Linked DNA regions of Homo sapiens. The protein of the gene in region 2 interacts with the protein of the main gene of each other region in a biochemical or structural test. Each region holds a gene or a part of one and is shown on either strand. Other genes may lie near its edges.

Region 1 (7,000 bases), on a different chromosome or scaffold from region 2:
ATAACTCTCACAGTAAAACCCACTAATACTTGAAGGTCATTCTTTTTTTACCTTGTAAGACATTTTACATCATCATCTGCTGCTTGGTTTGATGTTCCCATAACCCAGTCTGTCAGGTATTCTACCATCTTATTCCTATAGAATGGTGGAGAAAAGAGAAACAGCAAACAATGTTTTTGAAGCCACACACACACCTTTAGTCACGTAAGATTTCTTATAGTGCAAATAATTTGCCAGATAACCTAAGTGACATGACGACTTTATAAAAGAGATACTGCTATCACAGACATAAAAGCCAGAAGGGAACAAGCAACATGGATATTTATCCTCCATCATGGCCCTTAGTTATGGTATCAGATTGGAAATAGAATCAAATTCTTAGCTCAAGTATAGCACAGTTTTAGAAAAAGGGAGCATTGTCACAGGCACAAAGCTTAGGGAAATTTGAGAAGAGATGTAGAGAAAAACAAACATGTAAATTGCTCTCTTTTCATGTCCTCCTTTCTACCAATAACCGCATATCTACTCTTTTTCTGTACTTCATTGGACATATTAAGATTTACAAGACCCTACATTGCTCTTTTGAGAACTCACCTAAATTTCATCTCTTGGCAAAATGAGAGGTCATCTCTCCTTGCCATCATTACTTCAACTAATTGACACAGTTTCGTTTTTATTTGAATTGCATGGACCATATTCCCAAGCACACGAACATACCTATATAGACATAGAAACAATAAAAAAATTATCAGATATAGACAAAAGAGAAGGCATTCTAAATACTTTAGTCATCAAGTAAAACGAATTAAATGTAAGTTTGAAAACAATAAGATATTTATTTAGAAAAGAACGTACACAACTTCTGGCTACCTTACTGTCACACCCTAGTTTGTGTGCAGTAAAGAATGGCCAGTTATTTTATCAATTACTACCAGTATCAGTGTGTAAGAGGTTTTTCTTATCTCTTAAAATGTTTCTGCTACATTTCAGTAGAATGCTTACCTGACCAGATTTAACATCATTGTTTCAATGCTAGCTTGCCCTAGATGTTCAGAGCTGCCTTCAGTATGATTATCTAGCAAGTTCTTCATTATAGCTATGGTTTGTTCTACAAATTGAGTATTGGTATCAGTCAATAAAACCTAAAGAAAGAACAAATACATTAATGATTTGCCATCAATGCCCAGAAGACAGACCCCCTAGAGAGATGAAACTGACTGATCTAAACACACAGAGTAAGTGCACCCACAGGCATAGAGCCAAATAAGCATACAGATATACGCAGACACTCGTACCCATACACAGGGCACGTATACCCTTAGGCACACATACACACCAGAGTTCCTAAGAGGCAAGCTGACCCCTACATTGAGATGACTCTTCTTTCTGCAATTTTTTGGAAATTTTTAAAAACTGTGAGTACCTAATTTAAATAATCTGAAAGAAAAAGGCTTATTTCAAACAAGTCACTCTATTCATAGAGAAAGGTGAAAAATAAGAGAACACTTTACCTGTCCTTGGGAGTCAAAAAACTTGCTGATGGTATTCTTCAATTTGTTAAATAGCATTGGATACAGAGCAGGACTCAATTCTAGACCCACCAGATCCTTAACATTGGTCCGTATTTGAAGTCCCACTTTCTCATGGTTACACACCATTAAGGACAACAGCCGATCCATAAATTTGCTGACAGGTGTATCTGCGTTTCCCTCTGAAGACATCACTGAAATCATAGAACCCTTACGTTCACTGACTGGACCCATGGGTGGGCTATAGGTTGCCAGGCCAGAATTGCTTCTCTGCTGGAGGCACACTCCCCCAAGGGCACAAAGGAAGCCAGTCATGTTGATCCATTCCTGTAGGGAGTCTGTGTCAGACAAATCTATGGATCCTCCTCCACTCACATGGGACATTCGCCTCTTAACAATGGTCTTGTGAAGGCTTTCAGCAGCCTAAACACAAAATTTTTGTGCAAAGCATGAATTAAACCTTAATTAGTTGAGACTTGACAAATTATGCTTTATCCAACATTTCTTCCATGACAAAAGTACAAAAAATGTAAAATATACATTAAAATCAACCCATAAAATTACCATATACATTTTTAAAGAGCCACTGATCTATTTTTATCATACACTAATATAATCAGCCGAGTGTCAAATTTCTTTTAAAAAGTTTTGATTTCACATGGATGAACCTTGGAAACATCATGCTAAGTGAAAGAAGCTAATCACAAAAGCCCACATATTCTATAATTCCATTTACAGAATATATCCGGAATAGGCAAATCTACAAAGACAGAAAGTAGATTCATGGTTGCCTAGGGCTAGAGACGTTGGGGGAAGAGAGGCAAGAAAGTGGGTGGGGGGTGGTTAGAGGCAGAGATAGCTAAAGGGTACGGGGTTTTTTTCTCAATTGATGAAATTGTTCTAAAACTTGATTGTGGTGATGGTTGCACAACTCTGTGAATACATTAAAAACAGTCACTGAATTGGACACTTTAAATGGGTGAACTGTATGGTATGTAATTATATAAAACAGTTATCCCCCCAAAAGCTTTCATTCTAAAGCTACATGTCCCCTCCAAATAAAGGTATTAGGTACACACATTTGCTTCGTAAAAATATAACTTTTTCCTATTGTAATTAAGCATGACAAAAACACCATGGAGGAACAACCAGTTTTTATAAATCACCTAATAATGAGAGCAATATGAACATTACAAATCAAATACACACAAACACTAACTGATCATTAATTTCCAAAGTAACAGATAATATAGTCAATAGTAATAGTTGAATGAACTGTCCACATTTTAAAATTTCATTTACTCTATGGGATCAATCTACTGCCTAAGACATTCCTTAATTAGAATACCTAACAAAATAGCAAAATGAATTGTTTCCATGTTAATTTATCTCTACCTCTGTTGCTCCTTTTCTGAAAATTCTGTGAAACACCCTGATGAAGGGAGAAAGAGCAAGAAAAGGTAAAGAAATGGTCTCTGCAACAAACAGTCTCTAGCAGTGCTGCCCAGTATTTCTGTGATGACAGGAACATTTTCTCTCTCTGCTGTCCAATAGAGTAAGTAATTGTCATATGTGGCTACTGGTACTTGCGATGTGGTTACTATATGATTGAGGAACTAAATTTTATTTAATTTTAATTATGTTAAAATTTAAGTTAAATAGTCACACATAGCTAGTAGCTACCACATTACAAAGTACAGGTCTAGATAAACCACAACTAAATATCAGTCTTCACACAGCTATATGTTTACTTTACTGAGCGACTCTTGAAAGATTATCAAAGTGAAGTACATATATTTAGCAGATCAGTTAACAGACAAAAGTCAACTTTACAGACTTACCTGGCCATCTTCCATTTTGGCTTTTGGATAGTTAAGGATTAGCTTTGTTGCTTGTTCCCATTTTGCATGTGTATCTTCCCAAGCCTAAAATGAAGGCAATTATCACTTGAAAGCAACTTAGTCTAGAGCTAAACATCAATCAGCTACAGCCAAGTTTCAAACTTGATGTATATTAAATACTCAGATATTATACTTGTAATATGCACGTATCTTGGATTTACTTCAAAAGCTATTCCTGATCACACATATGTAACAAGAGGCTTCCAAATTGAGGGTGGGCGCCTGGGAGGGGTGTTTCTGTTGCTAAGGGCATACCTCAGTGTTTCCTGCAGTGGGATGCTCAATGCGCCTCAGCAGTGCCATCACTCTTTTCTGAAGTGCTGCTCTTCCTAAGCAAATACAACAGCAAATCAAGTTACTGCACTTAGAGCCCTGCCTGCCAATGGAGAACCTGATAAGCTCCACCCAAAAGGAGTAGGAAGAGCAGAGCAAATGCTTCAAATGATAAAGCCAAAAACTTCCTTTCACTAACCTCACAGGAAAGGTACTTATCTTGGACTCTACAATGTCCACAGAATAAAATAGCTATTCCCACCTACAATTTACTCAAAACATACGCCAATGTTTGTAAAACTTCACTATCTACAACTTAGGCAGAGTAAATTACATAATCATAACTGATAGTAACATCTACTGCCAGTTATTTTTAAAATGTATAGCATATTAACAACTCAGTGGAAGACTAACAATTTATTTCAAATGCTTTTTATTTTCATCTTACTTTGTTCAGAAAAGGATTTCAAGTAAGCTACTTGAATTTCCCCTGTAAACTTACAAAGTAGTGACCTTAAATACATTCTCAAAATCAGATGCCATGTGCTTTGAGGCAGACTGAGTAAAAAAAACCACTATTCACATTTACCTGTTGACATCATATTGCTGACAGAGGCAAACTCCATGAATGTGTTATAGTTGGGCAAGAGGTTATGCACTGACACTTCATCCACCCCACACCGGATATCTGCTTCCTCACAGAGGTGGCGGAAACAGGACATGGCAACCAGAACAGCTTCAGTGTCAGGGTTCCACAGAAACATGTACAGGGCCACTTCTAGTTTGGTCTGGGCTTGTCGGCAAATCGGGGGGGTTCCGCTGCATCCTGCTGCACTATCCTGAGAGTCAAGGGTGGAAGACATATATTTGCAACTTGGGTAATTTTATGTATAAAATCTAACAATGCAATAAACTGTGTGTGTGTGTGTGTGTGTGTGTGTGTGTGTGTGTGTGTCTCCGCATACAATAACTCACAAGAGCTTTTTCCTTTAATCATTATAGGAATTTTTCAAACCCCAAAATATCTTGTCCAAATGAGAAATGAGATTATCTGGACCAACATAATGCTACCATCTGTTCAATTTCAAATCAAATAGATATTATCCTATTCCAGATTCCAGAAATGTAAACTGATTCTAACATGGACAGGTAAACACCATAACGTAAATCTACTGCAGTAACAATATAATGTACCTCCCAGTCAATTAGAAATGACAAAAAAAGAGGAAGTAACAGGAAATTCTATCTACTTGCTATAGGGAAGTAATAAAATAAGTACACTGCAGCACTCATTGAAACAAGGGCATAAACAAGAACTAAATATTGCTGTAGAAGATACATTTGATTCTGAATTACTTATTCTCCAAACACGAAATGGAGAAAATAATTGATAAAATAAATGCAAATTCTACAAGTAAAACAGACATTAGTAAATATCATACTGCTTAGGTGTTTCTTCCTTAACAAGGTTGCATTAAAAATTAGGAATGAAAAAAGTTTTGGTTTGGAAAATAAACTCTTCTGTAATGATGTGATATTTTCACTTGAAATATGATTTATATTTAAAAGAAATTATACACACAAACACAAATCACAGAAACACTTATCTTTAACATGAAGCAAAATACTTTGTTTTTATCCCTGTAAATCTGTACCTTTGTTAGCCGGTACGAATTCTATACTTCTGTGGTATGAATGGGTTTTTTATGGAGTGGAGGTTTATAATAATTATAATTATCAGATATAGCTTGTAAGTGTCAAGTGCTATTTACACATCCTTTTATTTAACCCTCTTTAACAACTCTGGGGCAGGAACTATTACTGTCCCCATTTTAAAGTTGAGGAACTGAGGAACAAGGATGTTAAGAACTTGCCCAAAGTTCCACAAAGAGCAGTAATAGAACTAGATTCTAAGCAGTTTTTCACTATTACACTATATTACCTAGATGAAATTTACCAAATTTCATTCAGAAAACAAACAGAGCACATAAAATGATACAGAAAAAGTACAGAAGAAGCTGACCATAGAGGAGTTCCCTTTTCCCTTCCGGAGAGAGGCTCCAGGAGTACGTAGTAATTCTTCATGATCCATGGACATTTGACTGGTATTTCCACTAGAAGGAATATCACATCCTACCCCGTAAAAAAGGAGAAAGTGACAGGAACTTCTATCTGCCTGCTAGAAAAAAATAAATAAATAAGCTTTACTGAAGCACTGACAACCAAGAGGAATAAACACTTATTTGAGTTGTCTTCCTGTTTGAGACTCTCCTAAAAAACCTCTCCTCTCAATCTCTATGCCCCAACTTGAAGGAGATTCACTAGAAACCCATTAGAACAAACAAGGTTTACTTAATTCTTTAAAATTTCTTTCAGTTTCCCATTCTCTAAATCATCAGAAACAGTAGATTCTACAAATATAAATTAAGTCTGACATAAACATGAGTAAAACATCAACAATATAAATCTACTGTATGAAAACTATAATTTGATCTCAATGACAAAGATTTTTTTTCCATAAGATTTTATACTGTGCCATGTTGGGATAACCAGAAATTGGCTCTTGAGATTAAGTTCTTCTGGACCAGTAATTAACTCTGGTATGTATATACACCAAGTATGTCACAAGAGTGACTATGCCTACCAGGGCACTATGAATTCATTACTGGATTCCTCATACTCACATTCTGGAGATTATACCATAGGCGAGGCCATGAAAGTCTGAAGTCTAATCTCTTTCTGTATCTTTGGAATAATGCCAAATTCCACTACATTAACATATCAAATAAGTCACATGTGAATAAACCCACTTCACCATTAGTCTATTTCTAAAGAGACAATTTATTAATAACAAGCTGTAAATACTGAAAAGGATATGAGTTTCATACATTTAAGGTCTTTCACAGCTATGCTTCTAGTACCAGATAAAAACTCATTAAATCAAGTACTCCGAAAACTAGGCCATAACAGAATTCCTAAATTGATTAATTACAGAAACTATATGTTAAAAGAAATTTAAGGCTCTTCTCTATCTTCCACAACCTCACCATGTTTCAATAGTTCAGAATCAAAACATTTCACTCCACCCCAATGAAAAAGTCTCCTGATATTTTCAAGAGGTGAAACCCTTATTGGAGGAATCGAAATAAATCTAGATTGAGGACCCTCAACTGTTTCCCTTTTGCTTCTTGATAGATAATTCTCTGGACTAGTCTAGCCATGAGATCTAGGTCTTTACGATTTCTCAGAGCTATGATTCTAGAACTGGACAAAAACCCATTAAATCAAGTACTCCCA
Region 2 (3,190 bases):
TTGCAAGGACACAAGTTGGTTCCAACAAAAGTGACAAATTCCTTAAGAAAATGTTATTCCAAGAAAATATTCTTACAAAATACACTCCCATAGAAGGGGAACAAACACTTAATGACATCTACATATCAGGAGCCTCATATACATTTACTTGATTGAATCTATAAACCTATCCTGAGGTGGACGGCATTATCTTCATTTATAGCTGGGGAAATTCAAGTTCAGGGAAGCTAGAGAATTTGCCCGAGGTTGCAAACCTGACAAACTAGAGAGCCCAAATTTGAACCCAGGCCTGTCTGCTCTCTCTCTCCATCATACTAAGTTGCTATTTTTCCACAGGGATACAACAGAGAAGACCTAACTCCATCCTTCTCTTTGACTCTCCCTTCCTTCTTGGCAATGCCATGCCATGCTGTTCCCTCCCGGTGTTTTTCAACCTCTCCTTCACACATAGAAAATTATCTACCACATCGGTCCCACACAGAAAGATCCACAGCCTGTTATGAAGTTTTTGCTATAAAACATTTAATGTTAACCTACAATACAATGTAAACTTTTATGAAAAAAATTTAAAGTACACTAGATTTCTTCAGTAAATTATCACATGACTATTCAGGCGCAGTACAAGTTGGGGCACTGCATCCTTTGTGGATGGATTTCCGTTGCTGTGTTCCTCACAAGTCCTAAAAAAACCAGTTGTAGAGCGGAGCTCCTTGTTCAAGCACCGGATAATGATGCCCCTGATTTTGCATTCTGGGGGTTATCGCTCCTTCTCAGTCATTTTCTGAAACTCTTTGCTTGGCCTTGGCACCATTAGCAATTTTCACAACTGCTCAATTGAAGGTTCTAGGTTCTTTTTAGCTTAGTTTTTAAGAGACAAGTGTTATCCTCTGGCCATCTCTTATTCAAATATCATGGTGGAGGCAAGCAAGGAGAAAGAAGTATTTGCTAGAGGAAATTCTGCAGAAGTGGAAGAAAAGACCAGAAGGGCTCCACTGAGGGTACAAATATTCAACTGACTCCAATCGAGTGTCTTTGCTTGGTCACTTCCCATGGTTATTCAGCTCAATCTACAACTTCAGTCGTGGGAGTGCAGAACAAAACTTGAAACAAGTGCTTTTAGTTGATGATTTGCCATTTGGAAACAACAGCTGAAATATCCCAGAGGTGATGTGGAAACAAGAGCAAATGCTTGCAGATCACTGGCTTCTCAGTGTCTTCTCCCTCGCAGGTCTCATCAAAATCCCAAAAGTCCTTAGGAGTAACACAGATTGTACTGGCATTAAGTGACAAAATGTGCAGCCTGTATTTGACTGAGGAGGAAAGGAAATGGCACCTAGGCAGCAGCGCTAGGGTCAGCAAGGAGACCGGCCTAGGGTCTCAGTAAAGCAGAACTGTTTCAAATGGGACTAGACCGGGGCATGTGCTTCCGGTGAATCCTCTTGAAACCTAAAGTAAATGGGAAGGCCGCCCTAACAGTTGTACTGACATAAAGGGAGACCCTTCTTAATATTCTGGCAGCTGACTTCCTTCACTGAACAACTATTATCAAAAGGCGAGAGGCATAAAGTGCACACTGTAGAATAAGAAGAGACTGAATTATGATGGAAAAAAAAAATCGTAACTTCCCCAAAGAGGTGTGGACAGTGTACCTAGCCTCACAAAGGTCCTTAATACCCTCCTGTGTGCTGCCAGGGAACAGCTGTGAATTCCAGATGGGGAGGAAGGCTCTGACTTAAGTGGAAAAATTCCTCTGCATGGTTGTCAGCAGGAAGGTTTCACGTAAGGTTATCCTTATGTGGAGAACATGGGTTATCCTGCTGTTCACGCCAGATACATTTTATTGACAGCAGTCAGATGGTGATTCCACTCATCTGGCCTTGGGACAGCAGAAAACGAAGTGGAAGAACAATAGCTGGCCAGGGACAGAATTAAATTTTCCTAGAGATGGTGTTCTAGACAGCTATGCCAAGGCCACTGGGAATTTCTCAGGCTCTCCAAGTTAATTTCTGTGGGGTGCCTTACTCTGCCATGTGGGATTTACCCCAACAACTGAGGACTGCAGTGGATAGTAACCATATAATTGCTACCAAAAACAGTGGTCCTTAGGTTTTAGTTAAGCAAGAGAGAAAGCCTTGAGACTACAACTCCAGCAAGTTAGGCTTTATGTTGATCTGAACCCCCCGCCCTCACAGCATTCTAGGAACTACAGTAACGTCAGTCGGTTGCAGTGGTACAACGAGCCTGCACCAGTCTAGCTACAGAACACTTTGGAATACTTGTCAGAGCGCACTGGCATCTGTTAATACATGGCCTGACCCATGTACCCATTACCATAAACTCAACCACAGACGAGACATCCAGAGGTTAAAAAAAACCCTATTACTTCAACATAGCAATAGAGAGAAAGGATAAAAGCTGCCTCCAGAAGGTGGCTGCATCAGAAATGAAAATGTGCCTTCCAATAGATTACACAGGCTGGGAGTTCTGTCTTGGCTCCCTTCAAGGCCTCTGGTTCTATCCTTAAAACAATAATACACTTCCACTGAGACAGGCAGGGCACTCTCCTGTGGTTCTGCTGGCTCCACCACAGGCCCTGCTAGTCCTTTGGAAAGGCACCAGGCTTGGCAATTCAGGAAAGCCCAGGGCTGGGGGGAGCAGCATGCACATGTCAGAAGAGGAATGAAGAGCTGCTATCCTTTGGTTCAGACCCCATAACCACCACCTGGTACAGACTCCAAGGAAAAGCTGCAGTTGTGTGTAAAGGTGAGTTCCACCACATACATAGGTGTATCTTTACATATACAGCCTTTGTGGGGCCACAAACCCAGATTTCCTCCCACTGCTCCAAGTGGGGTGCACAGGTGGTAAGAAAGGACAGCAAGAGTTGGACCAAAAAGAATGACCTCTCTGGGAACGTGAGAGGGACAATGGCAGAAATAAGCACAAACCAGCCCGGGGCACTTTTATTACACTATTGTGGGCTAAGGAGCCCAGGGCATAAACTCATGGGTTTAAAGAATTGGCTCTTTATCAAATAAAGGAAAAAAATATATATATATACCTATGTCAGCCTCATTCCTTTGGTCATTACAAAACAGAAATAAAAGTTATTGAAAACTTGTGGGCAGTTCAAGGAACATCTCTGCTTCTCTGCTCTGTGCTTTCTCTTCCCTCTCTTCCCCAGAGGCAG
Region 3 (7,000 bases), on a different chromosome or scaffold from region 2:
CACGTTTTTGTTCTGGTTGGGGTTGGCTGCAAACTTCACTGTGATGGGCTCAGAGGAACCTGGGGGTTTATGACCATTGAAACTGGTAATTGCCTCTTCTGCCTCCGACCGTTTGTCAAACCGGATAAACGCAACCCCTCTGGACAAACCTTTTCAACAAATCAACAAAAACGGAGTTAGGGGGAAAAACGCTAGGACTTTCAAAACTGAAAAGCAAAAGTCAGGTCAGTCTACTGTGGGCCAGGCTAGAAGTCTGGTTAAGGAAATAAACAAAAATTAAACCTAAAAGTGAAAACAAATGGATGGAGTAAAGAAAACCAATGACTAACAGAAGATTAAAGCTTCAGACTTTCTTCCCGGCTGAAGCCATGACTCCACAGTGTTGGCGCCCAAAGATATTTTGGTGACAGACATCCCCAATAGACACCCAGGCCTCTTATTTGGAAGAAAGCAACATTAGGAAACAGCACATCCACCGTCACTATTTAGCTGCCAGGTGTCCGCCACAGAGTGGGTGCGTGGGTGTGGTGTGTGGTTGGTGGGTAACAGGGTTGGAGTGGGGACTGCGTCTGAGAGATCCTCCCTGGGCTCAGGGGCCACTCTCCTGGCTGCTGTCTCTGGGCCCGCTGTGACAGCAGGCCTCGTGGCCGAGCCTGCTGCAAAGGTGCCCAGCTCAGCCTGCATGCCTTCTCCTTCATGCCAGGAGGGAGTAGGGTCCTGTGGCCACCCCCTGCCAGCTCCATGCTGCTGCTGTCACCTCACTCCTGTCTTGGGATACTCCACTCTAAGGTCCTACACCCCTCCCGTGGGCCCCAAATTGCCATCAGAATCAAATGAGGCCAGAACACTGCCCAGGCTCATACAGCAGAGCTGAACCTATCCACAGGCTCGCCAGGCAGGCCTGGGGTCCCTGTATGGGAAGGGCCAGGGCCCCAGCAGCCAAGCCCAGAGGGCATCTTCTCTTGCCACCTCAACTGAGCCACCCAAGGGCCAGTCCCGGGTTCCCGGCTAAACCCAATCCCTGGACGGAGCAGTGTGAGACCTGAGGACCGTCCTGCTATGGGGGACATTGGTCAGCTGGGCATGGGTGTGAGATGCTGAGCAAGGCGGGTGGAAGGAGAGCATGGCTGTCCTGCACCCCTGCCTGTCCATACACTAGGCCCGGGAGGGAAACATGAGTAGCCCGTCCCTTGAGGAACCTGGGAAGCGGGCTGGAAACTGGATGAGGGGGATGGGGATGAGGGCACACTGAGCAGCGCACTAGCTCCTTCTCTGGGGGCAAGGACATGATGGAGTCAGGGGAAGGCCCAGGGGTGGGAGAGGTGACAGCTGAGAGGCCAGTCTGAGAGTGACATCACTAGGCGGGAGTCACGGGTGTGTCCCAGTGGGAGAGGCCGTCACAGACAGCCCAACCCAAACACCCTGGTTCTCAAGACTTTTAGTCAAGCCAGGCCAAGGCTCATGCCTGTGGTCTCAACTACTCCAGAGGCTGAGGCAAGAGAATCGCCTGAGGCCAGGAGTTCAAGACCAGCCTGGACAACACAGTAAGATCTCACCTCTTAAGGAAAAAGAAAGACTTCCAGTCAAAGGGTGTCTTAAGTCAGGTTTCTTCTCCAGGCAAAGGCCTCTGGTGCATGGTAACAAACAACGACCAAAGCCAGGCAGCCCGGGGCCTTGGGTGACCTGTCCAGCGGGCACCCAACTGTCCCCATGTCCTGTCTCCACGCCTCACACGGCACCTTACTCCACCACTTCCCAGAGGGTCCCGCCAGCTGCCCCCACAATCGCGACACTGCAGGCCCCCCGTGAGCACAGAGACAGCAGCTTTAGTAAGGTCAGACCTAGCGCTACGCACACGTGCCAGGAATATTCTGGGGCTCAAGCTCATTTCTGAGCTGCTGCTCAGAAGGAACACCTGAAAACACAACCCTGACAGATGCTGTTTTCTTTGAGTCTCTCACGACACGAATGACAGCTTAGTCAGTCTTGGAAACCTAAATGAAAATCGAACTTTAGGCAAATACGACTGAGAGCTGACGCTGGCCGGCTCGTAGGGAAGCTGGCTCCAAGCAGATGGCTTCATTCTGTTTCTAAAGACCCTGCGGCCCAGCGGAGAGAAGGCACGTGTGCAAGTGTGGCTTCCTCGTCTGGGGTTGTAGAGTGGCTTTCAAATGCAAACTGCCTGAGTGAAAGGAAGAAAGCTCTAGTAAGGGGGGCAGGAGGGATGCTGTTTAGCAGAGGGGGATATCAATTCACTCAATTATTTAATGGATGTATACTTTCTGAAGATGGCTCTGCATTTTTTGTTTTTTTCTTCCCCTAGTGTTTTTTATTTTTAATTTTTTTTTTAAGATGGAGTCTCGCTCTGTCGCCCAGGCTGGAGTACAATGGCACGATCTCAGCTCACTGCAACCTCCACCTCCCCGGTTCAAGTGATTCTCCTGCTTCAGCCTCCCGAGTAGGTGGGACTCCAGGCGCCTGCCACCATGCCTGGCTAATTTTTATTTTATTTTACTTTATTTATTTATTTAGAGATGGAGTTTCGCTCTTTTTGCCCAGGCTGGAGTGCAATGGTGCAATCTCGGCTCACTGCAACCTCCGCCTCCCAGGTTCAAACGATACTCCTGCCTCAGCCTCCCCAGTAGCTGGGATTACAGGTGCCTGCCACCATGCCTGGCTAAGTTTTTGTATTTTTAGTGGAGACGGGGTTTCACCATGTTGGCCAGGATGGTCTCGACCTCTCGACCTCGTGATCCGCCCACCTTGGCCTCCCAAAGTGCTGGGATTACAGGCATAAGCCACCGTGCCCGGCCTATTTTTAGTACAGATGGGGTTTGCCATGTTGGCCAGGCAGGTCTCGAACTGCTGACCTCAGGTGATCCACCCACCTTGGCCTCCCAAAATGCTGGGATTACAGGCGTGAGCCACGGCCCCCGGCCCCCTTGTGTTTTTTAGAATTTAACAGCAGAGTCCAAGAAACGGCATAATCTCCAGATGAATACACTATAAAGTTCACAATTAAGGTGGATATAGAAGCGAAGGAATACAAAAAATTAAGCTCTGTCAGCTCAGGGTGGGATTTTTTTTCTCTTTTTTTAAAAAAAGAGTTGGGGGTCTCGCTATGTTGGCCAGGCTGTTCTGAACTCCTGGGCTCAAGCAATCCTCCCACCTTGGCCTCCCAAAGTATTAGGATTACAGGCGTGAGCCACCGCGCCCGGCCATCCTCATCTATTTAACACTAAAAAGCCCGTCACAGGAAGGCAAACTCCACACAGGCTGGCCTGCCACACACACTCTGTCTCCAGCAGAGGGAGCTACAGCCCTGGGATGGGAGCCTCACCTTCCCACCAATTCTGCATCCTGGGGTGGGAAGCAGAGCCGGGAGACCCTCCTGGCTCCCTTCTCTCTGCCTCCCTCACTGCTCTGCAAAGATGACAAAGGTTCCTTAGGCCACCTTGAGGTTCACAGCCGACCCTGGGGGCGCAATACTAAGGTGCCCCCAACACCCTGGGAGACACTATCTTGCAGAGGGAAAGGAAGCAATGCCCCCAGCAGCTGTGTGCAGAGGTGAGTTCCCCCTGCCTGTGGCCCGTGTGTGCCTGAGAGACTAGGGAAGGCCCCAAGAGAGTTGGGTGGCTGGAGGCATGTTCTCAGGCATTGGGGGCTCCAAGTGGAGCACAGGCTTCCCTCATCAGGGCCATACTGGACACAGACAGGCCGAGGCAGAGCAGTGCATGTGGGGTCTAGAGGAGGAGGGGAGTGGACTGTGGGCCAGTGAGGTTGGTTCCCCCGGCCCTGGGCCCTGCACAGCCAGCTCAGATGCCCCAGTGCAGAATGGGGGGCAATAAACCCACACACTGGCCCACTGACAGGATCATTCGCTCAGCTGGCACTTAAGTGAGAGGACTTCAGGGACCACAGGAGACTCTTCTGGTGCAGACCAGGGGAGTTTACACCGAGTAACTGGCATCCCCCGACCCTCTCCCCAGAGCAAAGGCAGAATGGCGGCGGCCGTGCGAGTGAGCCCTGTCCTTCGGCACTGCCCGGTGCCAGGGCGCGAGTCTGTGCTAGGCTACAGGAAGCTCCCAGGGCCCCCATGAAGTGCAAAGGGGCCCTTCCCCTCCTCGGGCCCCAGCGGGAACGAAGGCCGGCAGCGGCAGGGCCAGTGCATGCCAGGTGGGGTTCCTACAGCCGGAAAGGAGGAGGAAGAGAGACTGATAAGGCCGCCCACCCCAAAGCACGCAGCTCAGGGGACGCAGGACAATGTGCATGCCCCTCTAGCCTGCAGGCCAGGAAGGCCCCACCTGTGTGCACATGAAAGGCGAGGCTCTGGGCTGCTGGGGGAGTGCTGCTGTTCTCTCAAAAAGAGGTCACCTCAGAGCATGACTTTCTGTGGCCCAACTACTCGGTGTTATTTCAACATCACAGCCAAGGTGCGGCACACACAGTCTGTGTGGGAAGAATATGAAAACCACCCATACAACGCATGGGCCTCACTAGGCTCAGGGAGTGGATTCTTCCCTGCTGGTTAGTTAGCAGACTCCTGCTCCTGCCCCAAACAGAGCTGAGCGATCCTAAATCCCCTCAGGGTGGCCCGAGCTCCCTGTCCCCCAGGCGGGGCCACGTGCAGGGCTTGGCAAAGGATGTGGTGGGGCACTAGTTCCTAGCCTAGTGCGGCAGGCGGGCCAGGCAGTAGGGCCGGAGCACAGCCGTGGGCGTGCACATGTCCCCTGCTCATCTCTGCCTGACGGCATCACACAAAGCCCAGAGCCCACATCCAGTGCCAAGACGGACTGGGAGGGCCAGCAAAGTGGCCAGGATTGCCTGCCCATTAGAGGAATTCGCTGCCATGTGCTCTGTGCACTTTAGATGTGCTCCCCAGAGAGGGGCATCCGAATTCTGGGGATTTGGGCCATCAGACTACTGCACCCCAAATGCCTGCAACGAAAGCCACAGTGGACAAATGTGCAGCAGCCTTTTTTTTTCTTTTTCTTTTTTTTTAAGAAACAGGGTCTTGCTCTGTTGCCCAGGCTGAAGTGTAGTGGCGCGATCACGGCTCACCACAGCTGTGAACTCCTGGGCTCAAGCAATCCTCCCACCTCAGTCTCCTGAGCAGCTGTGATGACATGCCCGCGCCACCGCACCTGGCTGCAGTATCCTTTTTTTTTTTTTTTTTTTTTTTTTTTTTGAGATGAAATCCCGCTCTGCTGCCCAGGCTGGAGTTCAGTGGCGCAATCTCGGCTTGCTGCAATCTCCGCCTCCTGGGGTCCAGGCGATTCTCCTGCCTCAGCCTCCCGAGTAGCTGGGATTACAGGCGCCTGCCACCACACCTGGCTAATTTTTGTATTTTTAGTAGAGATGGGGCTTCACCATGTTGGCCAGGCTGGTCTCAAACTCCTGACCTCAGGTGATCCGTCCACCTCGGCCTCCCAAAGTGCTGGGATTACAGGCGTGAGCCACCACACCCGGCCTGCAGTGTCCTTTTCACCCCATTCATGGGCAAGGCCAGCACATTTGGGTGCCTGAGGGAAGGTGCTAGAATCTCTTGGCGTTTTCACTGTACATGAAATGCTGGCCTAATCCCCAGCTTTTTTTTTTTTTTTTTTTAAGACGGAGTCTCGCTCTGTCACCCACGCTGGAGTGCAGTGGCAAGACCTCGGCTCACTGCAACCTCCGCTTCCCGGGTTCATGCCATTCTCCTGTCTCAGCCTCCCGAGTAGCTGGGACTACAGGCGCCCGCCACCATGCCCAGCTAATTTTTTGTATTTTTAGTAGAGACAGGGTTTCACCATGTTGGTCAGGCTGGTCTCCATCTCCTGACCTCGTGATCCACCCACCTTGGCCTCCCAAAGTGCTGGGATTACAGGCGTGAGCCACCACGCCCAGATATCCCCAGCTTCTTTTAATGCCATCTTACCTCCTCAGCCTCCTCAAACCAAAGCCAACGTCTTCTCATTTTGGTGCTGTCCTCGTTTGCGGAATAACTAATGACATTTAAAATCAAACGGTGATCTGCCTTCCCTAGAAAACCCAGCCCCCACCTAGAGAACACCCTCCCCACGCGTCTGGGGCCCCTCTGGTACCTGTAGTCTGATCCACGAGGACCCGCGAGTTGATGATCCGCCCAAACCGAGAGAACATGTCTTCTACGTCCTTCTGGGTCATGGTCCGCGGGAGCCCGCTGATGTACAAGTTGGCGTCTTTGATCACCTCTGAGCTCGGGCGAGCATACGACACCTTGGGAACACAACCACTTTCCGAGATTAGTACAGGCACGTGGCCAAAGCATTGAGGAGGGTGTTGAATGCTGGGTTAGGAAAAGCCAACACTGTGTGTTAGAAATCATGCAGGGAACGATTATCATCACTGACGCTCACCGCCTGCAGCCGCATGGTGGCAAGCTCACTGAGGGATGGGCCGTGAGCCAGGATGCCTGGCAGTGCTTCCTCACTGGGTGCTCACCATCCTCAAGGAGGCAGGCGTGACTCCTATGTCACAAAGCCCAGCAACTGAGGGCCCGCAGCTTGTGTGTGGCTACCTCTCTGATGTGCTGGACAGTGAGCCGGTGCCAGAGAGGTCCTGGTGCCTGAAAGCAGCCCGTGCTGCAGCGGGCAAGCAAGCTGGGAGCTACTGGGAACACAGGAGACTCCCCTGCCAAAGAGCAAGCTCGCCACAGAAGCCCTGACAGGGGCTGTGAGTTCTGGGAGGACCCCGAGTTTGTACTCAAATCCACTCAAGTGTTCAATATTAAACGACTCAATGCCTTTTGGATTTATATTTTGCAAAATCAAAGAAAACTGAAGAGAACCTTCTGGGTGCTTTGACAAAATGGTACATTCATCATTCGTGTGGAGAGGGTGGTGAGGGGAGCCCGGAGGCCAATGCAAGACAAGGTCTTCGGTGCTTTCTCAGGTTGGCGCTGACGGCCGTGCAGACCCCATGGGCCCAGAAGGAAGAAAAGGACCACAGTGGAACCCCTCTGCCTGTGAAGGGGCAGCCT

What was found. Proteins that work in one complex are often made in the same cells at the same time.
Region 1: the proteins of FAF2 (region 2) and NF1 form a complex in vitro, tested with the Homo sapiens proteins (one study listed by BioGRID).
Region 3: the proteins of FAF2 (region 2) and ELAVL1 form a complex in vitro, tested with the Homo sapiens proteins (one study listed by BioGRID).

What each region holds. Positions count from the first base shown.
Region 1 is NC_000017.11:31,223,977-31,230,976, reverse strand, and holds part of NF1 (neurofibromin), read right to left. Parts: intron 5,883-7,000; coding exon 5,727-5,882; intron 4,543-5,726; coding exon 4,293-4,542; intron 3,760-4,292; coding exon 3,686-3,759; intron 3,455-3,685; coding exon 3,371-3,454; intron 1,953-3,370; coding exon 1,512-1,952; intron 1,143-1,511; coding exon 1,003-1,142; intron 718-1,002; coding exon 595-717; intron 136-594; coding exon 52-135; intron 1-51. UniProt on the Homo sapiens protein: Stimulates the GTPase activity of Ras. NF1 shows greater affinity for Ras GAP, but lower specific activity. May be a regulator of Ras activity.
Region 2 is NC_000005.10:176,507,385-176,510,574, reverse strand, and holds the end of FAF2 (FAS-associated factor 2), read right to left. Parts: 3' UTR 501-3,190; downstream 1-500. UniProt on the Homo sapiens protein: Plays an important role in endoplasmic reticulum-associated degradation (ERAD) that mediates ubiquitin-dependent degradation of misfolded endoplasmic reticulum proteins.
Region 3 is NC_000019.10:7,967,642-7,974,641, forward strand, and holds part of ELAVL1 (ELAV-like protein 1), read right to left. Parts: intron 6,238-7,000; coding exon 6,084-6,237; intron 150-6,083; coding exon 1-149. UniProt on the Homo sapiens protein: RNA-binding protein that binds to the 3'-UTR region of mRNAs and increases their stability.